Homo sapiens: one gene and its partners. The protein of the gene in region 3 interacts with the protein of the main gene of each other region in a biochemical or structural test. Each region holds a gene or a part of one and is shown on either strand. Other genes may lie near its edges. The genes, in order: ZSWIM7, SWSAP1 and XRCC3.

Region 1 (7,105 bases), on a different chromosome or scaffold from region 3:
CACCCAGGCAGGCTGGATTCCAGTGGTGCAATCATGGCTCACTGCAGCCTGAACCCCCTGGGCTCAAGTGATCCTCCCACCACCTCAGCCTCCCTAGCAGCCGGGACTACAGGTATATACCACCACATCCAGTTAATTTTTTGATTTTGTGGAGACAGGGTCTCCCTGTGCTGCCTAAGCTGGTCTCAAACTCCCAGCCCCAAGCGATCCTCATATTACAGGCGTGATCCACCATGCCTGGCCAAAATTTAATTTTTTGAAAAGGCAATAAACCGGCCAGGCGCGGTGGCTCACACCTGTAATCCCAGCACTTTGGGAGGCCGAGGAAGGTGGCTCACGAGGTCAGCAGATCGAGACCATCCTGGCTAACACGGTGAAACCCCGTCTCTACTAAAAATACAAAAAATTAGCTGGGCACGGTAGCAGGCACCTGTAGTCCCAGCTACTTGGGAGACCGAGGCAGGAGAATGGTGTGAACCCGGGAGGCGGAGCTTGCAGTGAGCCGGGATCGCGCCACTGCACTCTAGCCTGGGTGACAGAGCGAAACTCTGTCTCAAAAAAAAAAAAAAAAAAGCAATAAACCAAAATTTAAGAGTGATTATTACTGGGTGGTATGATTATTGATGCTTTTTATAGGTTTTATTTTCCAATAAAAGTTTTTTATAAGTGTGGGTTATTATTATTATTATTATTATTACTGAGTTGGAGTCTCACTGTGTTGCCCAGGTTGGAGTGCAGTGGCACGACCTCTGCTCACTGCAACCTCCACCTCCCAGATTCAAGTGATTCTCCTGCTTTAGCCTCCCGAGTAGCTGGGATTACAGGCGCATCCCACCTCCCAAGGTGCTGGGATTACAGGCATGAGCTACCACACCCGGCCTAAGTGTGGGTTATTTTTATAAACTAGAAAATAAAATGGCAGGGTTAAACTCAAACTGAAAAGTTAATGTTTTAAAGAACTTATATGACTTAACACAGAGTAAGACAAACCTAGTAAGGCTTCAAAATTAAAATGTTCAACTTCTTACTTCATTTTCCAACAAACCAGCCACATATACAACAAATTATTGGGGGAAATAGAAAAGAGTGCTTTGAATTTTTATATTAAACATATGAAGATTTAGTCTATAAAATAACAAAATACAAAAAACAATGAAATAAAATTTGTCGGGAACCTTACCAATCAATCTCAACAGTTACCTTTAAGAATTTTTTTAAGGCCAGGTGTGGTGGCTCATGCCTGTAATCCCAGCACCTTGGGAGGCCAAGGCAGGCGGAACTCCTGACCTCATCATCCACCTGCCTCGGTGTGTGCCACCTGTAGTCCCAGCTACTCAGGAGGCTGAGGCAGGAGAATCACTGGAACCTGGGAGGCAGAGGCTGCAGTGAGTTGAGATCGCGCCACTGTACTCCAGCCTCAGTGACAGAGTGAGACACTGTCTGAAAAAAAAAAGAATTTTTTTAACCTGCTCTGTCCACTTTAATACCTACTGTGAACATCTCTTGAATGCATTAAAAATTTTTCCATATCACTTTTAATGGTTACAAATAATTCTACTGTAAAGATGAATCATTTTTATTCTCCTCAAACTCCATGAATTGTTAGATTGTTTCTATGTTTTATTGCTACCATAAACAATACTGGATATTCATCACACTGAGAATATCCTCACTGTAAAATCTTTACAAACATCTATAATTACTTCCTGGGTATATGTTCTTTTATGTGGAATTTCTGGGTCAAAGAATATGTATGTTTTAAAGTTCCTATTGCCTGTTACCCTGCAATTTACATTCCTGTTATAAATGACCCCTTTCCCCATATTTGTGTCAACTTCTTTTCTGTGGTCACTAATTTTCTAGATGAAAAGTTATGTTATGTTAATTTGTATTTTTGTGGTCACTAGTAAGATTTGTCTTTTTCCTCCCAAAGGATTCGGCTATTTACATCTTTTATTCTTTGCCCTTTTGTTTTTAAAGTAGTACATTTTTTTCCAGTAATATTTAATTCTTATTAAAAATTTAAGAAATACAGTAAAGGTTAAGGCCGTTCCCTCAATTCTACCTCCTTCCTTGCCCCAAAGAAAAAACACTGGTAGAGCTTGGTATATATTCTTCAGAACTTTTATTTTTTTAGAGACAAGGTCTCACATCACCCAGGCTGGAGTGTAGTGGCACAATCATAGCTCACTGCAGCCTGGAACTTCAGGGCTCAAACAGTCCTCCTGGGACAGGTTTTGTTTTTTTTTGTTTGTTTTGTTTTGTTTTGTTTTTTTTTTGAGACAGAGTCTTGCCTCTGTCACCCAGGCTGGAGTGCAATGGCATGATCTCAGCTCACTGCAACCTCTGTCTCCTGGGTTCAAGCGATTCTCCTGCCTCAGCCCCCCGAATAGCTGGGATTACAGGTGCCTGCCACCATGCCCGGCTAATTTTTGTATTTTTAGTAGAGACGGGGTTTCACCATGTTGGTCAGGCTGGTCTCGAACTCCTGACCTCAGGTGATCCACCCGCCTCAGCCTCCCAAAGCGTTGGGATTACAGGCGTGAGCCACCGCACCTGGCCAGGATTTTTAAATGTAAGTGTGTATCAGTAATTAAGTATTACTTATACCTAGGTAGCTTTTACTTTTTTGGTCTCTGCATTTTTAAAATAACTGACCACTCTATATTATTCTCATTTAAGTAGTTGTATCAACTGCAAATAATGATAATTGTCTTTCCTTGCAGATAGGTACATTTGTAATTTCTTTTTCATGTGTTAGTTGAACAGCTACGCTTTTTTTTTTTTTTTTTGAGATAGAGTTTCGCTTTTATTGCCCAGGCTGGAGTGCAATGGCATGATCTTGGCTCACAGCAACCTCTGCCTCCCAGGTTCAAGCAATTCTCCTGACTCAGCCTCCCGAATAGCTGGGATTACAGGAATGCACCACCATGCTTGGCTAATTTTGTATTTTTAATAGTGACAGGGTTTCTCCATGTTGGTCAGGCTGGTCTTGTATTCCTGACCTCAGGTGATTCGCCCGTCTCGGCCTCCCAAAATGCTGCGATTACAGGCGTGAGCCATTGCGCCCGGCCAACAGCCACAATTTTTAAAACAATGTTAAATAAGAGTGGCAAATATGACAATACTGGATATGGTGTTGGCTATTCAATTGAGACAAATTTTTAAGAATCATGTCAAGAAAATATTATTCCTAGTTTCTAAGAGTATTTTTTATTTTTTATTTTTTTTGAGATGGAATTTTGCTCGTTACTTAGGCTGGAGTGCAATGGCACAATCGCAGCGAGATATGCAACCACAACCTCCCGGGTTCAAGCAATTCTCCTGCCTTAGCCTCCCAAGTAGCTGAGATTACAGGTGTGTGCCACCACATCCCACTACTTTTGTATTTTTAGTAGAGACAGGGTTTCACCATGTTGGTCAGGCTGGTCTTGAACTCCTGACCTCAAGTGATCCACCCACCTCAGTCTCTCAAAGTGCTGGGATTGCAGGTGTGAGCCACGGTGCCTGGCCTTTTATTCTATTTTTAAAATTATTTTCGTAGAGATGGGGGGTCTCCCTATTTTGCTAGAGCTGGTCTCGAACTCCTGGGCTCAAGCAATCCTCCTGCCTTTGCCTCCCAAAGTGCTGAGATTACATGTGTGAGTCACAGTGCCTGGTAGTAAGAATATTTTTATTTTTTATTTTATTTATTTATTTATTTATTTATTTATTTATTTTTGAGACAGAGTCTCACTCTGTCCCCAGGCTGAAGTGCAGTGGCATGATCTTGGCTCACTGCAACCTCCACCTCCCAGGTTCAAGTGATTCTCCTGCCTTAGCCTCCTGAGTAGCTGGGACTACAGGTGCCCACCACCACGTCCAGCTAATTTTTTGTATTTTCAGTAGAGATGGGGTTTCACCATGTTGGCCAGGATGGTCTTGATCTCCTGACTTCATGATCCACTCACCTTGGCCTCCCAAAGTGCTGGGATTATAGGCGTGAGCCACTGCGCCCGGTCAAGAGTATTTTTAAAAATCAAGAGTTGATGTTGAAAGGATTTTAACATTAATGGTTAAAAAAAAATCAAATACAACAGTATATGTACTTACGATAACAGATATTCATCAGGAACTGTAAAATGAGAATGGAAAAAAAAAGTTAATCATATTAAGCAGTGACCATTGACATAAAAATCTTAAAAAACACTGTAACTAAAAACACTTCCGTGTGTGATGGTCAACTGAACCTATGCATCTGGTTTTACTCCTTCCCCAAACCCCACTAAAACCATAATAAAAGGATTTCCTTTTTCTTTTTTTGAGACGGAGTCTTGTCCTGTCACCCAGGCTGGAGTGCAATGGTGCAATCTCAGCTCACTGCAACCTCCGCCTCCCGGGTTTAAACCATTCTCTTGCCTCAGCCTCCCAGGTAGCTGGGACTACAGGCATGCACTACCATGCCCAGCTAATTTTTTTTGGTATGTTTAGTAGAGATGGGGTTTCACCATGCTGGCCATGCTGGTCTTGAACTCCTCACCTCAAGTGATCCACTGGCCTTGGCCTCCCAAAGTGCTGGGATTATAGACATGAGCCACCGTGCCCGGCCAGATTTGTTTTTAAAAGTATGAATTCCAAAGGATGAGAAAGACAGGGAGAAACAACAGCCATGATACATTGGAAGCTGATAGAAGAGTGGAAAATGATTTATAAGACCTAAGAAAACTGAATCCTAGGCCAGCAATGGGGAGAGTCAAGCACCAGCCTGAGTTACACTCCAAAATCCACCTCTCCCCTTCCCCAAACCCTAACGAATTGGTGGCACCAAATAGCTTCATTAGGGGTGAAACAGGGATATGAAAATAAGACTCTTTTCGAGTACGTTTGAGAAGTAGTGGGACCCCAGTTCCCTCCACAGCTTTAGGTGACTGCCTTTCCCTCATTCTGGCAAGAGACTAGGTTTATTTTCTGGAGAGGTTCAAACACAGGCTATTTGGACTAGGGAAAAATACTAGGTACAGTGAAAGTCAGGGTGTCACACTGAAAACAGGATCTCCTGCTCTCTTCCCTAACATGGCTCCCATAACACAAGCAATCAGGCCTTCACACTTCAGCCAGGAGACTGGAAGTCTTCCCTAGGTATACCCCAAGAGAAGTGGGAATGACACTGAAATGGTTTCCCCAACTAAATAGCCTACTGAGAACAACTATAGTGACGTTCATATTCCGTAAGCCCCTCTACCACCCAGAGCTTCCAATATACTTTTTAGTCTTCCACTCTGAAATATGACTAGACAGCCAAGGGTTACCAGACAACAAAGGAAAAAGGAAATAGAATAAAACAAACAGAAGAAAGTTAGAGGAAAAACTGCAGAAAGGAGAAAATTTTAAACATCTATTACTAATATTTTATCATCAGAAAAAAGTTAATGCAATCATAAAACAGGCACAAAAACAGGCAGAAGGCATAATAAGAAGAAAAAGGGAATCTTCTGAAAAAAAGTTATAAATTAAAAATACATGGTATGTCTCTGTAGTTTCAGTTACTTGGGAAGCTGAGGCAGGAAGATTGCTTGAAACCAGGAGTCTGAGGCCAGCCTGGGCAACACAGTAAGACCCCGTCTCTCTTTTTTTTTTTTTTGAGACGGAGTTTCGCTCTTGTTGCCCAGGCTGGAGTACAATGACGCAATCTCGGCTTACCGCAACCTCCACTTCCCGGGTTCAAGCAATTCTCCTGCCTCAGCCTACAGAGTAGCTGGGATTACAGGCATGCACCACCACGCCCAGCTAATTTTTTTAGTAGAGACGGGGTTTCTCCATGTTGATCAGGCTGGTCTCGAACTCCCGACTTCAGATGATCTGCCCACCTTGGCCTCCCAAAGTGCTGGGATTACAGGCATGAGCCACTGTGGCCGGCAAGACCCTGTCTCTTAAAAAAAAAAAAAAAAAAAAAAGACAGCAGAAATTCAACAGAAAATCTGGAAGATAAAGTTCAAGAAAGTTCCCAGGAAGTAGAGAAAATATAAAAGCAACACAGAAGCCACAGTAAGTCAACCAGAAGGACAACAGAGGACATCCAGTAACTTAATTACAGAAATACCGGAAAGAACAGAGAAAACAGATGGAGGGAATTCATCAATCAAATAATTCAAAATTCCCCACAGCTGAAGGACATGAATTTCTAGCTTGAAAGGGCCCACTGTGTGCCCACACTGTGAAGTGAAAAAAAAAAAACTTTATCAGAAGATTCAGAACACTGGTTATGAAGAAAACATAATTCAAACTTCCAGAGAAAAAAAAGGTCACATACAAAAATCAGGAGTAACACTAGAAGCTAAGATGTAGTGGAAAAATGTTTTCAGATGTCTGAAGAAATATTATTTCCAACAAATAATTCAATACCTAGACAAACAATCACTTAAGTGTAAGGGCAGAAAAAGAACTTTTTCAGCCGGGCGCGATGGTCAGCCTGACTAACATTTAGTATCTCTACTAAAAATAGAAAAACTATTAGCCGGGCATGGTGGCGCATGCCTGTAATCCCAGCTACTCGAGAGACTGAGGCAGGAGAATCCCTTGAACCCAGGAGGCAGAGGGTGCGGTGAGCAGAGATTGCACCATTGCACTCCAGCCTGGGCAACAAGAGCGAAACTCCGTCTCAAAAAAAACCCAAAAAAACAAAAAAACCCCACAACTTTTTCAGACATAAGCCTCAAACAGGGGCCGGTGTGGGGGCTCACAACTATAATCCCAGCACTTTGGGAGGCCAAGGCAGAAGGATCGCCTGAGCCCAGGAGTTCCAGAGTAGCCTGGGCAACAAAGGAAGACCCGTCTCTACAGAAAATAAAATAATCAGCTGGGCATGAGGTGTGATTGCGCAACTGTACTCTAGCCTGGGGAACAGAGTGAGACCCGGTCTCAAAAAATAGAAAAGAAAGCCTCAAAAGGTACATCTCATGCCCCCTTCTTCAGGAAGCTGGCAGAGTCTGTGTGCCATAATATAAGGTAGTAAGCCTGGGCAACACAGTGAAACCCCGTCTCTACAAACAATACAAAAACTAGCTGGGCATGGTGGTGCACACCTGTGGTACCAGTTACTCAGGAGGCTGAGACAAGAGGATCTCTT
Region 2 (6,839 bases), on a different chromosome or scaffold from region 3:
AATAGTGGGGGAAGAATCAGGTCCCATTCAGGAGGGTGGTGACAGCAGCCCTGGCCTTGCACCAACCCCCATACTGGGATAGATGATCTTAGAGAACACAGGCTGGCTTGTACCTGTTTGGGATTGGCTGGGCGTGGTGGCTCACGCCTGTAATCCCAGCACTTTGGGAGGCCGAGCCAGGCGGATCACTTGAGGTCAGGGGTTTGAGACCAGCCTGGCTAACATAGTGAAACACCATTACTACTAAAAATACAAAAAATTAGCTGAGCGTGGTGGTATGCGCCTGTAATCCCAGCTACTCAGGAGGCTGAGGCAGGAGAATCGCTTGAACCCAGGAGGCAGAGGTTGCAGTGAGCAGAGATCATGCCATTGCGCTCCAGCTTGGGCAACAAAAGCGAAACTCCAGCTCAAAAAAAAAAAAAAAAATGAAAGCCTTCTCAGCTGGGCACAAGTGGCTCATTCCTGTAATCCCAACACTATGGGAGGTCTAGGTAGGAGGATTGCTTGAACCCAGGAGTTTGAGATCAGCCTAGGCAATGTAGCAAGACCCTGCTCTCTAAAAAGTAAAGCGTTTAGGCCTGGAGCAGTGGCTCACGCCTGTAATCCCAGCACTCAGAGAGGCTGAGGTGGCAGATCACCTGAGGTCAGGAGTTCAAGACCAGATTGGCCAACATAGTGAAACCCCATCTCTACTACAATTACAAAAATTAGCCAGGAGTGGCAGCATGCGCCTGTAATCCCAGCTACTCAGGAGGCTGAGGCAGGAAAATCACTTGAACCCGGGAGGCGGAGGTTGCAGTGAGTCCAGATCGCACCATTGCACTCCAGCCTGGGTGACAGTGCGAGACTCGGTCTCAAAAAATAAAAAAACGACAACAACGACAACAAAAATCAAAAGCCTTCTCAACATGCCCCTGTGGGTCTCACAGCATCTCAATCTCAAGTTGACTAAAACAGAGCTCTCTGATTTAGAATGTCACAACACAACTATCCCAGGCACAGAGCTCTCTCCTGTCTCCTCATGACTCGAGTAAAAGCCAACTTTCTCCCAATGCCTCAGGGCCCTTGCACTGAATGAATTCTCCACCTAGAATGTTCTTCCCCTGCATATTTGCACAGTTCACACCCTGACCTCTCTCAGGCCTTTTCTCAAATGTCGCCTTCCCAGCCTGACCCAACCACCCTATTCAAAATTGAAAAAACAACTGGCCCTTCCTTCTAACTTCCCTTCCTTGTGCAAATTTCTTTTCTTTTTTTTTCTTTTGAGATGGAGTCTTGCTCTGTCACCCAGGCTGGAATGCAATGGTGCGATCTCAGCTCACTGCAACCTCCACCTCCTGGGTTCAAGTGATTCTCCTGCCTCAGCCTCCTGAGTAGCTGTGATTACAGGCGCCCCACCCCGCCCAGCTAATTTGTGTATTTTTAGTAGAGATGGGGTTTCACCATGTTGGTCAGGCTGGCCTCAAACTCCCGACATCAGGTGATCCGCCCGCCTCAGCCTCCCAAAGTGCTTGGATTACAGGGGTGAGTCGCCGTGCCCGGTCCCTTGTGCAAATGTCTTTTTGCCTATGCTTGTCATGTGCTCACAGTGTTTCAATTCCTCGTGATGCTCAGTGGGTCTTTATAGGTCTCCCTCACTCGGATGTCGCTCCACCAGGACAGAGATTTGATCTGTTGTCTGTTCACTGTGGGGTCTACAGTTACTAGAATGGGCCCTGATACATAGTAGATACTATTGCTTGAGGATGCCAGTAAACTAAGGATAGGCACAGAGTGACCCCAAGCCACCTAGTTCCTACCCTGTAGCCCCAGGTCCAACCCTACCTGCAGGCAGGTACATTCCTCCATGATTCTCCTCTATGGTAAATCTTCTTCTGTCAAGATGTGAAGACAGGCCAGACACAGTGGCTCATGCCTATAATCCTGGCACTCTGGGAGGCCAAGACAGGCGGATCATCTGAGGTCAGGAGTTTGAGACCAGCCTCGCCAACATGGTGAAACCCCATCTCTACTGAAAGAAATACAAAAGAAAAAAAAATAAGCTGGGCATAGTGGTGTGTACCTGTAATCCAAGCTACCCGGAAGGCTGAGGCAGGAGAATTGCCGGAACCCGGGAGGTAGAGGCTGCAGTGAGCCGAGATCGCGCCACTGCACTCCAACCTGGGTGACAGAGCGAGACTCCGTCTCGAAAAAACAAAACAACACAACAACAATAACAACAAAAACAGATAATCAGTTAAAGAGTGAAATGTGTGCAATTTTGGGCAGGCAGTCAGGGGAAGCCTCTCTGAGTAGATGATATTTTGACCAAAGACCTAAAAAGAGTGGAGGGAAAAAAAAGTCGGCTGGACTCGGTGGCTCACACCTGTAATCCCAGCACTTTGGGAGGCCAAGGCGGGCAGATCACCTGAGGTCAGAAGTTTGAGACCAGTCTGACCAACACGGAGAAACCCCGTCTGTACCAAAAATACAAAATCAGCCGGGCGTGGTGGTACATGCCTGTAATCCCAGCTACTTGGGAGGCTGAGGCAGGAAAATCACTTGAACCTGGGAGACGGAGGTTGTGATGAGCCAAGATTGCACCATTGCACTCCAGCCTGGGCAACAAGAGCAAAACTCCATCTCAAAAAAAAAAAAAAAAAAAAAAGCCAGAAGGATATCTGGAAGCTGACTGCTGCACACACAAGAACATCAAGTGCAAAGGACTTGTGGTGAGGCTGTATTCAGCATGCTCCCATGTATGTAACTGTGCTGGACTCTGTGATGTGGGTGTCACTACTGAGTATTTGTGCATTTTTGTTTGTTTTTGTTGAGATAGGGTCTCGCTATGTTGCCCAGGCTGGAGTGCAGTGGCACAATCACTGCTCACTGCAGCTTTGACTTCCTTGGGCTCAAGCAATCCTCCTGCCTCAGACTCCCAAGGAGCTGGGACTACAGGTGCACGCCACCACACCTGGCTAAATTTTTTTTTTTTTTTTTGAGACAGAGTCTCGCTCTGTCGCCCAGGCTGGAGTGCAGTGGCGCGATCTCGGCTCACTGCAAGCTCCATCTCCCGGGTTCACGCCATTCTTCTGCCTCAGCCTCCCAAGCAGCTGAGACTACAGGCGCCTGCCACCATGCCTGGCTAATTTTTTTTTCTATTTTTAGTAGAGGCTGGGTTTCACCGTGTTAGCCAGGATGGTCTTGATCTCCTGACCTTGTGATCTGCCCACCTCGGCCTCCCAAAGTGCTGGGATTACAGGCGTGAGCCACCGCGCCCGGCCAACACCTGGCTAATTTTGAAGTATTTTGTAGAGATGGGGGTCTCCCTACATTGCCCAGGCTGGTCTTGAACTCTTGGCCTCAGGCAATCCTCTTGCCTTGGCCTCCCAAAGCACTGGGACTACAGACATAAGCCACCACACCTGGCCTGTATGTGCATTTGGAGTGTTGAAATGTGAGGTGAATCATGCGTTGTATATCTGCTGGGGGATGGGGGCTGAGGTGGCGTGTTTGACAGCGCAGTGTATCGGTGTGCTTCACTGTGTGTGTCTGTGTGTGTAGTGGCAATGTCATAGTTGCGTGTTTTGCAAGAGAAAGGGTGTGGGGGATGAATGTGGGACAGAGTTTGTATGGGATGCTTTGTGTCAGGATAGGGCAAGGTTGGAGCATGTGGATGATGGGGATTCTGAAAGTAGAATATATTCAGAGATGCCATGGTGTGTGTGTGTGTGTGTGTGTGTGTGTAGAGGGGTGTGAGTGAGCCCAGCTGTGTGAGTGGGTGTGTTGGGGGATGTCGTGGAGCTGTTTTCTGGTCCCAGAGGGAGAGAGAAAGCCCAGGAAATCTCACTTTCTCCCTGCCCCTGGGTCTCCAGGCAACGGCACCACTTTGGAGTTACCAGGAGACAAGGTTGCCAGGGCAACACAGGCGTGAGTGGCAGCTCTGGGGCGAAGTCTGGGTGAGAAGATCCAGCCAGGGATCACGATCATTCACTTTGTTCCTCCCTTTCTCCCTGTTTCTCATCAATCCCACCTCCCTTCCTTCATTGTCTTAACGAGCACGTATTTGAGAACCTACAAATGTGCTAGGTGCTATTCTCGGTACTGGAGAACAGAAGTGAACAAGACAATGTCCCTGCTGTATCTCTCCTTCAGTCTTCCAGCTCCTGTCTCTTTATCTCTCCTGCTTCCTTCTTTGTCCTGCGGTCCTGCCTTCCCCCCGTACCACAAAGGCGGCCCCACAGAACCCCTTAGCCAGTGAGGAAGTAAGTTGAGAGGCTTCATCTCACAGACTTTCGGGGATGGCCGTTGATGTTTTGTCCACGAGCCTGTGTCCCCAGACACACACTCCGGCCCATACTCAGGTGCACAGAAAGACAAGCACACAGCTCATCCCCCTCTCCAAAACTCTCAGTTGTCATTGGATGACATCAGCAAAACCACACACAAATACATGCCGATCACAATACTCCTCTGAGATATCATAAGCCCCATTTTACAGCAGGGCAAACTGAGGCTAGGAGCCTTTAAATAATATGTCACTCATTCTGGTCTACTCCTCCAACTTTCAACCCTTATATTTGTCTGATTAGCTGACAATAATAGTATTCGTGCTGGTTCCCCCAGCAGCCTCCCTCAGGGAAGGGTCTTATTTCCCTCGAATGCACCCATTCCTCCGCATAGGTTCTAACCATTTGCCCATTCACCTGAGGAATCGAGTTTTGATGGACAGATTCCTAGACCAATAGAGAAACTAAGTGAACTGTACCGATGCGGCCACGGCTTGGGCGGGACTAAGGCTGGGAACGAGCCACCGATTGGTCAGAGCTACGCGGCGAATGGCGGAGACGCTGAGGCGGGTGCTAACCAGGGGCGGTGCGGCCTGGTCCGGGGAGGAGAACATGCCTGCCGCCGGACCGCCTTTGCTGCTGCTCGGTACACCAGGATCTGGAAAAACAGCGCTGCTATTTGCTGCGGCCCTAGAGGCGGCGGGGGAGGGCCAAGGCCCAGTCCTCTTCCTGACACGAAGGCCTCTTCAAAGCATGCCCCGCGGGACCGGAACGACTCTAGACCCAATGCGACTCCAGGTAACCGTGGGGGTGGGAGCAGAGGCGTTCTAGCCAATGGTGGAGTAGATCCGGGATATTGAGTAACAGGTAGACAAGCCAATGGAGAGGACGGTGGAAGAGCGAGCCAGGGCAGCCACGATGGGGCGGAGTCAGGCAGGCGGAGTGAGGAGTGGCACCACGCGGAGCTTAGTTAAGATTGAAGTGAGAGCCCATCCAATGATGGGCGGTGTTAGCAAGAGGCGGTGCCCAGAGATTGAAGTCCGGCCCATCAAGGGGCGGGGCTAAGCTTGGGTCCATTCTGGACCTGAGTTGGTTCCTGTTAGTGTCAAGGATGGGGTCAGACCGAGAATGCTGGGGGAGGGTTTTCCGTGGAAAAATTGCGCTAGAGATTTGGCCAAAAACAAACAAGCAAAAATGGCTTGCCCTCAACTAATACTCGGCAGTGATGAGTGCTGGAAAAACGGGCGAATATAAGAATATTTAACAGCTCTGAACTGGTTCATCCTGGAACCAAGGAAAGTATGCAAGGAGGCAGGGTTACTTTTAAGGAGTCTGGCTTCCTGTGCTGAATCCGGCCCTTTCCTTCTGTTTCTCCTTCTAGAAGATCCGCTTCCAGTACCCACCCTCAACCCGAGAGCTTTTCCGGCTCCTGTGCTCTGCCCATGAGGCCCCGGGGCCAGCCCCCTCCCTTCTGCTGCTCGACGGCCTAGAAGAGTACCTAGCGGAAGACCCAGAGCCCCAGGAAGCCGCCTACCTCATTGCCTTACTTCTAGACACAGCTGCCCACTTCAGCCACCGGCTTGGGCCTGGCCGGGATTGTGGGCTCATGGTGGCCCTCCAGACCCAGGAGGAAGCAGGTAGTGGGGACGTCCTGCACCTGGCACTGCTCCAGCGGTATTTTCCTGCCCAGTGCTGGCTGCAGCCAGATGCACCAGGTCCAGGAGAGCACGGCCTCCGAGCCTGCCTGGAGCCAGGCGGGCTGGGCCCCAGAACAGAGTGGTGGGTGACTTTCCGATCAGATGGAGAAATGATGATCGCTCCGTGGCCCACCCAGGCTGGTGACCCCAGCTCAGGCAAGGGTTCAAGCTCTGGAGGCCAGCCCTGAGCTTTGGTGGGTGACTACCTCTCTGTGCTTCAGTTTCCCATGGCTGGAATACTTACCTCAGGGACATATGCAGATCCAAAGACCTAAACAATGTAAAGTGCTTTTTCTCTTTTAAAAGTATAGCATTATCTTGTATATATTTTACCCAATCAATATGTTGTTTATAGTTTCATTGCTTTAAACTTTATAAAAAGAGCTTCAGGCCAGGCGTGGTGGCTCACGCCTGTAATCCCAGCACTTTGGGAGGCTGAGGCGGTCAGATCACCAGAGGTCAGGAGTTGGAGACCAGCCTGCCCAACATGATGAAACCCTGTATCAACTAAAAGTACAAAAAAAATTAGCTGGGTGTGGTGGCAGGTGCCTGTAGTCTCAGCTACTCAGGAGGCTTAGGCAGGAGAATTGCTTGAACCCAGGAAGCGGAGGTTGCAGTGAGCCGAGATTGTGCCACTACACTCCAGCCTGGGTGACAAAGCGAGACTCCATCTCAAAAAAAAAAAAAAAAAAAAGTTTGAGACTTCCTTCTTTTTGCACTCAACGTTGTTACTAAGATTCATCTACATTTTTTTAGTTCATTCCTTTTTCCATATTGCATATAATTCCATGGGTGACTATACCCTGATTTCTTCATCAGATTGCCTTATTTACTGCTGCGAACATTCTTGCACACATGCCCTGGTACGTGTGTG
Region 3 (7,692 bases):
GGACCCCGCGGTGGGGTGTGTGAGAGAGGACATCAACTTCACCTCTGAGAGACAAAATCTACTTGCATCTCAGGGACTAGAAACACGTGCGTTACTATCAGTTTTCTACAATTTGAAGCTGTCAGACAGTTTGAAGACGGTGACAGGTGCAGACACTATGATCACAGCCTGGGAGGGTTATGCTACAGGCGGCCTGGCCTCCCACAGGACGCCCAGGAATCCTTTTTTGTGGCTTCAAAGTCTCAGTTTTACCTAACATCAGTAACAGCTCTCCAGCCTGGGTGACACAGCAACACCTTGTCTCAAAAAAGAAAAAGCTCTTAGCCAGCCACAGGGACCCTTGAGGAGCTCGCTGGTGTCCCTGGCAGTATCTCATGAGGCTGCTGGTTCCCAGAACACCTGTGGAGGCTCTGGCAGCCCCTGGCACCTCACAGGGGTGAGCTTTACCCAAGCGCTGAGATCCTGGAAACAATTATGAAACCCCCCACCCTGCAGTGTGCTGGGAAAGCCTTCCACCGAGAACCACCCTCCCCATACGAGCCAGAGGAGATCACAGATGCCCCCCTTGCTTACCTGCAGCAAGGCCCTCCAAATTCCCATTCTCTGCCTCAGAAAACACTGGCCATTTCTCCTCATGATCAACTGGAACACAATTCCCTTACCTGGACTTTTTTTTTTTTTTTTTTGAGACAGAGTCTTGCTCTGTCACCCAGGCTGAAGTGCAGTGGCACAATCTTGGCTCATTGCAACCTCCTCTTCCCGGTTCAAGTGATTCTCCTGCCTCAGCCTCCTGAGCTGGGATACAGGCACACACCACCACGCCCGACTAATTTTTGAATTTTTATTATTTATTTATTTATTTTGAGACGGAGTCTCGCTTGGTCGCCCAGGCTGGAGTGCAGCTGCACGATCTCAGCTCACTGCAACCTCCACTTCCTGGGTTCAAGTGATTCTCCTGTCTCAGCCTCCCAAGTAGCTGGAATTACAGGCACTCATCACCACGCCCAGCTAATTTTTGTATTCTGGCCTCAGCTCTCTGATCTGCTGGAGGTCCTGACCCTCCACTGGCCCATCCCACCTCCCCAGCTTGATTCTTTCTAGCCTTGGCCACTCCTCCCTGCAAAAGAAAAGCCCTGTCCGGCCTGGCCTGTGAGACCCTCGCAGAACTCAGGGTCCCCTGTTCTCCCCGCTGCACAGCTCCAGACGCCTCTAGCAACAGTCCTCACTTCAGATCTCTCCTCATCCGAGTCCAGGCTCGTGATCAGACGCGCACGTGCTCTCTCCTTCCTGGCTCTGAATCTAGAGTATCCATCAAAGTGTCAACCCGCCAGCATGGAGCTGCGGTCATTCTTCTGCCAGCACCACGGATGGGAGGTGGGAGGGGTGCACAGCGGCAAGGATTTTAAGGATAAAACTCAGGATCTCAGCTGCTTGTGACAAGCCCAGATGGCTGCACGCCCGGACCGCCCACCCCCAAGCCCACTGCCTTGCGTCAGTGTCGGATATTTGATGGCAGAGTCAGACAAGCCCCAGAGATCATCTGAAGCTTCCTTCACACCCCCAAAGCACCTCTATCCAAAGTGGTGTCGCACGAAGCTTTACACGCCGCCTCTGCCTCCCCTGCCCCACAGGTTCCTGAGGAGGCACAGACTGGAGAAACGATTCTCAACTGGTTCTGCGTCAGAGCCTTGAGAATCTGAGAGCTGCAGGCCACCTCTCGGAGAAAGGTGCATGTGTGCACATGCTCCCCAGGGGGTTTTGCAGCATTTTAAAGGGATAACCCTCATGGGCCCAAACTGATAAACCAGCCCGGTCAGGCAGCTGGTATTCGGGAGACGGGCACTGGGCTGGATTCAGACTCCCCTGGCTAAGAACAGAGCTGGAATGAAAATGGACCAACACGTTTACAGATATGACGATGATGCCGATCGGCACACGGCCACCAAGCCAAGGACAATGTTACCCACCTGCCAAGTTCTACCAAATTCTCCTCTCCCCATTCCAAACCACCTCAAATAAACCTATTTCCCACAACTGGTTATCTGCACATTTGAGTCACCTCCCGACAATCACCTTAGCGGCCCCAAGCACGCAGCCAGCACAGTGTAGCTCAGTGTCCCCTTCAGCATCACCACATGCCAGGCGACTGTTACCGTACATGTCCCCTCGAGCTATTGCACCTAAAGCTGGACTTTATTCCAAATCTTCCAGCCCTTACTGCCCCGTTCTAAGTTCCTCCAGAACACTGTCTTTGGTCGTTTCTGGCCTGTAAGACCATGCTCCAATACAATTCACAACGCAAAACTCAGAGACAAAGTCCATCTTATTAGAATGGTTTCTCTGTCCCCCAAGCCCACCCAATGCTAGGACCTCCCTCAGCTGCTCAGATCCCAGTTAATCATCCAAACATGGTGGGGGGCTCTGGAGGGGTATCCTGCCACCACGCCAGCGTGGGAATGAATCTTCTCTTCCACGAGGGGTGCCACCTTGACTCAAGTGTTTCAACTCCACTCAGTCGGAAGTCACCGCGGGACTGCCACACAGTGCCTCAGCAGAGGCCACAAAGAAAGGCAGGGAAAAATGCTAAACAATTCAGCTGATACCAGAAGGGCTCTGGAAGAGAGAATGAAGGAGGGGAACACAGTGGTTCACTATAAAACAGAACCGTAAGATCAGTGCATGTGTACAGCAGGGAGAAAGAAATTGTGCTTTGGTGGAAACCTCTGCCTCATCTTGGCCACACTTTCTCACGTGCTCCTTACGGTTCATACAGACGTAGAGTATTTCTGTGCTATTAAGAGTTCGTTACACCATAAATACAATTTTCACGTGTCAACTTAAAAGTAAATTTTAAAAAAGATGAAGGAGGATGATTGGCGGAAAGTGTCTAAAAAGACTCCTCATGGTGGCGATACTGGGGAGAGGTGGGCAGCACTGGTCTCAACTCTCCAGGACACGCTCAGTGACCGGTGATGGCTCCGTACACTGTAGATGCCAGAGACACTTCCCCAGAGTCACTCGAATTCCGTCCTGTCCCCGAGGCTCTGTGGCCGCTCACCCCCCACCAGGCCTCCAACCAAGCTTCAATGAACCCAGTCAATTAGTGCTACTTTGACTTCTTGAACCTAGTTCCAACGTCTGCTTAGTTCTATCACTGAGGGAATTAAACGAATCTGTAACACGTGTTAAGTATGAAAGTCATATTACAAAAATTCTTTTTCTCCCCCAATTTTTTTTTTATCGTGGTAAAATCCACAGAACAGAAACTGGACACACCTGTTAGCGCACAGCCAGTGGGATTAAATGCACTCGGGGCCTTCCCAGTTGGCCAAGGGGCTGGTGTGAGGCAAAGGCACCTCCGATCAGGTCACAGGGAACCCCACGGGAGGCCCAGCGGATGGCCTGGCTCAGGGACCCCACGCCCACGCCCCAATGTCTGCAGGAGTGGCCTGGGCAACTCCTGCCGTGTCTGGGCCCATGGGAAACGGGTGCAAATCTGCGGTCTCCTTCAAACTGTCCAGTGGGCGACTGCGACCTCGCTTCCGAGGTGGAGGGTGGTATAGACGAAGGGAAACGGGGGGCAGCCTGGCCCGCAGACTGGGTCCTGGCCCTCCTTCCGAGCAGGAGGTGGCTTCGGAACCGGCCACCCGCCCGCGGCACCGACGCCTCCCCCGGTTCCCGGGAGGGACCCCTGCGGGGCCGCCAGCTCCAGCGCTTCCGCGGACAGCACGCGCCCTCCCCACCGAGCCTGCGAGGAAGGCGCTCCGCCTTCCACTTTCTCGGGAGCGAGCCCCAGCTCTCGGGACGCAGTCCACACGCGCTAGCCCAGCACGAACCGGCCTCGGGCAGGGCCGCACCCACCCCCGGGACCAGCCCGCGCCCCGCACCCCGCCTCCCGGCGCCCGCCCTGGACAGGTGCCTCCTGCCCTCCCGGGACCCCCGCACCGGGACACCGCGCGCCTCCCGCCCTCCCCGCGGGCGTAGGAGCCTGAGGCGGCGGCCCGGGGACGCGGCCAACCTGGGAGAGAGCGGGGGCGGGGGCCGGCTGGGGAAGGGGCCGCCCGGAGGCGGAGGGGTCGTCGCGGGAGCCTGGAAGCCCGCGGGGCCGGGCCGGGGCGGCGGGGCGGGTCGGAGGCGCTGGCCGGGGCGACGGCCACCCACCTCCTTGTCCGGGACCCACTGCGGCTCCTCCAGGCCGAACGGGCTTCCGAAGGCGCGGTGTTCGGGCACCATGCGCAGGCCGCTCGGGGAGCGCACCAGCTTCTTGGCGTCGCGGCGCGCGGACACCTCGGAGGACATGACGCCGCCTCAGCCTCTCGGCCAGCGGCCCCGCACCCGGCCCCTCGCCCAGCCCGGGGCACCGCCCGCCCCGCCCCGGTCCGCGCGCGGCTGACAGCGCCGGCGTCCAATCGCCAAGCCCGCCACGGAGCGCGGACTAATCGGAGCTTGAACTCCGCCCCATCGCTGCCCTCTCCAATCCGTGTAAGGGCACCGCCCCTGCAACCCTGAGGTCGATCACCAATCGGCGGCGAGGGCTGGCCCGGGTACGCTCCGCCCCTCTCAGGGAGATTGAGACTTTGGATTGGTTAGTTAGTCAGTCACGTTAGCGCCGCTTCGTCTCTGATTGGTGTAGCCCACTCAGGGTGCTAGGCGCCTATTGGAGGAGAAGGCCGAGAGGAGCAGGACGGCGGGAAGAGGAGTGCGGAACCCGCGGGAGGTGAGGCCCGCCGAGCCGGGCTGCGAGCCGGGCTGCGAGCCGGGCGGCAGCGGGGTCGGAGGTCGTGGGCGGCAGCGGGCGTGAGGGGTGAGGCAGGGTCAAGGGGCGGGGGCGGCCGCGGGTCTCCATTGCCCGAGCCTGTGGGAGCAGGCGGGCCTGGGGCTGCAGCACTCACCCCGGGAGCCCCGCCGCAGCTCGGGTAGCGTTCAGGCACCTCGCCGGGGCCGGGCCGCGTGCGTTCGGAGCGGGGAAGGCGGTCTCCGGGGCCCCCGGTGCGCGCGGGGAGGCGTCCGCTCAGGGGAGGCCGAGGTGGGCCCGCGGCTGCGCCCCCGGCCTTCGATGCCTTCGCTCGTCCGCCTGGGACCGCGCTGGCTTCGCATCGAAGTGGGAGAGGTCTGAACAGTTATTTTAATACTTTGATTTGGAAAGAAAATCCTTTAGGCCGGGCGCGGTGGCTCACGCCTGTAATCCGAGCACTTTGGGAGGCCGAGGCGGGCGGATCACGAGGTCAGGAGTTCAAGACCAGCCTGGCCAACATGGTGAAACCCCGTCTCTACTAAAAATACAAAAATTAGCTGGGTGTGGTGGCACGTGCCTGTAATCCCAGCTGCTTGGGAGGCTGAGGCAGGAGAATTGTTTGAACCAGGACCCGGGAGGCGGAGGTTGCAGTGAGCCGAGATCACATTACTGCACTCCAGCCTGGGCTACAGAAAAAGACTCCATCTCAGAAAGCACACAAAAAAAAGAAGAAAATGTTTGTTCATCCTGCCTTTAATTCCTTATTACAAGGCGTGAATTTTTATTGTTTTTTTTGAGACAGTCTGGCTCTGTCATCCGGGGTGGAGTGCAGTGGCGTCTTCACAGCTAGGCACAACCTCGACCTCCCAGGCTCTCAAGTAGCTGGGACCGCAAGCGCCACTACACTGGCCAGCTATTTTTCTTTTTTTTTTTTTTTTTCGGTAGAGAGTAGGTCTTGCTGTGTTGCCCAGGCTGGTCTTGAACTCCTGGGCTCAGGCGACCTTGGCCGCCTTGGCCTCCCACGGTGCTGGGATGACAGGCATCAGCAGTGTTGAAGCCTGTGAGGTGGGGTCCCTGTGGCTGACTCTGCCCTCTCCTGGGGCCATTGGCAGTGCAGGGGTCCTTGTGTGTGGAGGAAATAAGGAGATGATCAAAGTATGATTCCACGAATCACACGGTTTATTGTCAAAGAAGATTTGTTCTCGGGTTCACAGTGCTCAGAGGGGAGGAGAGGGGAGGAGGTGAAGACACCTGGCAGGGAAGCAGGGCCTCCATGGATGGGGTGCATTCACGGCAGGGAGGTGAGTGGCAGAACGGCCAGGGTCCGGTTGCTCTGCTGGGATGGAGCGGGCCCCTGGAGAGTGAGATCTGGTGAGAGTTCGAGGTTTGCCTTGGTAGCAGTGGAGAGCGTGAGAGCGGGAGCTCTCTGAGAAGCTGGGACCGAGGTCCAGCTCCCAGGCCAGCAGCGTATAGCTTGCCTCAAAGCATCTGCACAACCTTCAAGCTGATGTCTGTTTTTGCAGTCCAGCAGTCAGGGTCAGTAACTCACATAAGGGAGTGTCTGACAAGGTTTAAGTGGCATTCCCAAGGTTGCGGAGTTCACTCAAGTCCTCACATATGTGGTCTGATAAGACATCACACTCTTGCAGGGGGGTCAGGTCACCCCAAAACATCAGACTATGTAAGTGCTGTGAATCACTTCAAAGCTACACAGCAGGTCCCAGGGCCCAAGGCAGAGGAGTGAGTCCACCTCGGAAGGCTCAGAGCAGCTCCAGGCAGTAACCACGGCATTTCCAGAGTCTGGTGTGTGAGCCTAACAGCTCTGGTGTGACCGTCCGTACTCACCTAGCAGCACGTGACATCAGCTCTCCCCCTGAAGTCATTGCTCAGCTCGGGTGCTGCAGGAAGACATACAGGTCTGTCTTGGGCCAGCCCCTTGCCTGCTGTGGGCTGCTCCCTGTGTGTGGCCTTCACCCCGGTGTAGAGAGATGGGCTGGTCACACCCCTGCCCCTCACAGCGGCGAGAGGACAGAGGCATGTGCCGGGCTGTCTGTGGAGCTCCCAGGCCAGTGTCTGGGATGCGGCAGGTGCTTGGTGTTAAAGGGAAAATATTCCAGGATATCTGTGAAAGCACGTTAGGCAGAGACCAGGCTTTCATTCAGAACCTTTGAGAGATGTGGGAACCACCACACTGCGGTCTTGCAGTGGGAGAGAGGCTGGGCTCAGCTCTGAACAGGCCATGGGCTGGTGGCGGCTTACAGCTCCAGAGCTGGGCAGGGGCAGAGGATGGAAGGTTGCTAAGAGGAACCCCCAGGGGCGAAGGGGATGCAGGTTCAACTGACCTGCCAGATCAGGCCGCCCGGGGGACAGTGGAAGATGAGGCGCCTAATCAGCTGTCAAGGGTGATGGGACACGGGAGGAGGTCGTCACTAAACAGACTTTGAGCCAGGCCTGTTAAACCAAGTTCTCAGCAGGATGTGCACAGAGGGCCCAGGAGGAGCCTCAGGAGCCGGACTGCCGTTGGCCAACCGGTGAGTCTGTTATCCGTCAGTGGACACTCTGCTTCCAGGTGCCTTGGCCTCGGCCCGCGTCCTGAAGGCGGGAGACGTTGCAGCCACGTGCTGGCCTTCCCGGTGCTCCTGCCAGCGTCCCGCTGCTTGACACAGTCCAAGTTTTGTATCCAGACCCAGCCTGGGACAGCAGCCTCCCGACAGCCCCCAGGCCCAGCCTGTCTGTGACAGTCACGCCTGCTCAGGGAACCATCCCTCCGTGCAGATCTGGGCTGTGTTTTGGGTGGTACCTCGGGTGTGGGGTCCCCTACCAGGTGCGAGGTTCATACTCCCCAGGCTGCCTCCTGTCCTCAGGGCTTGGAGAGTCCCATGTTCTGAAAATGACCTCTTTTCGAGCCGGGCAAGGCCGCATCTCCTTTGGCAGTGTAGTGTCTTCCCTGGAGGTGG

Evidence for each region.
Region 1: the proteins of XRCC3 (region 3) and ZSWIM7 form a complex in vitro, tested with the Homo sapiens proteins (one study listed by BioGRID).
Region 2: the proteins of XRCC3 (region 3) and SWSAP1 form a complex in vitro, tested with the Homo sapiens proteins (one study listed by BioGRID).

The regions. Positions count from the first base shown.
Region 1 is NC_000017.11:15,989,665-15,996,769, forward strand, and holds part of ZSWIM7 (zinc finger SWIM domain-containing protein 7), read right to left. Parts: intron 4,115-7,105; coding exon 4,093-4,114; intron 1-4,092. UniProt on the Homo sapiens protein: Involved in early stages of the homologous recombination repair (HRR) pathway of double-stranded DNA breaks arising during DNA replication or induced by DNA-damaging agents. Required for meiotic progression, hence for fertility.
Region 2 is NC_000019.10:11,369,864-11,376,702, forward strand, and holds SWSAP1 (ATPase SWSAP1), read left to right. Parts: upstream 1-4,802; 5' UTR 4,803-4,817; coding exon 4,818-5,066; intron 5,067-5,649; coding exon 5,650-6,153; 3' UTR 6,154-6,306; downstream 6,307-6,839. UniProt on the Homo sapiens protein: ATPase which is preferentially stimulated by single-stranded DNA and is involved in homologous recombination repair (HRR). Has a DNA-binding activity which is independent of its ATPase activity.
Region 3 is NC_000014.9:103,712,449-103,720,140, reverse strand, and holds the start of XRCC3 (DNA repair protein XRCC3), read left to right. Parts: upstream 1-4,689; 5' UTR 4,690-4,717; exon of another isoform or gene 4,718-4,804; intron 4,805-4,818; exon of another isoform or gene 4,819-5,110; intron 5,111-7,172; exon of another isoform or gene 7,173-7,209; 5' UTR 7,210-7,266; intron 7,267-7,692. Other genes in the region: ZFYVE21 (zinc finger FYVE domain-containing protein 21), read right to left, coding at 4,162-4,299. UniProt on the Homo sapiens protein: Involved in the homologous recombination repair (HRR) pathway of double-stranded DNA, thought to repair chromosomal fragmentation, translocations and deletions. Part of the RAD51 paralog protein complex CX3 which acts in the BRCA1-BRCA2-dependent HR pathway.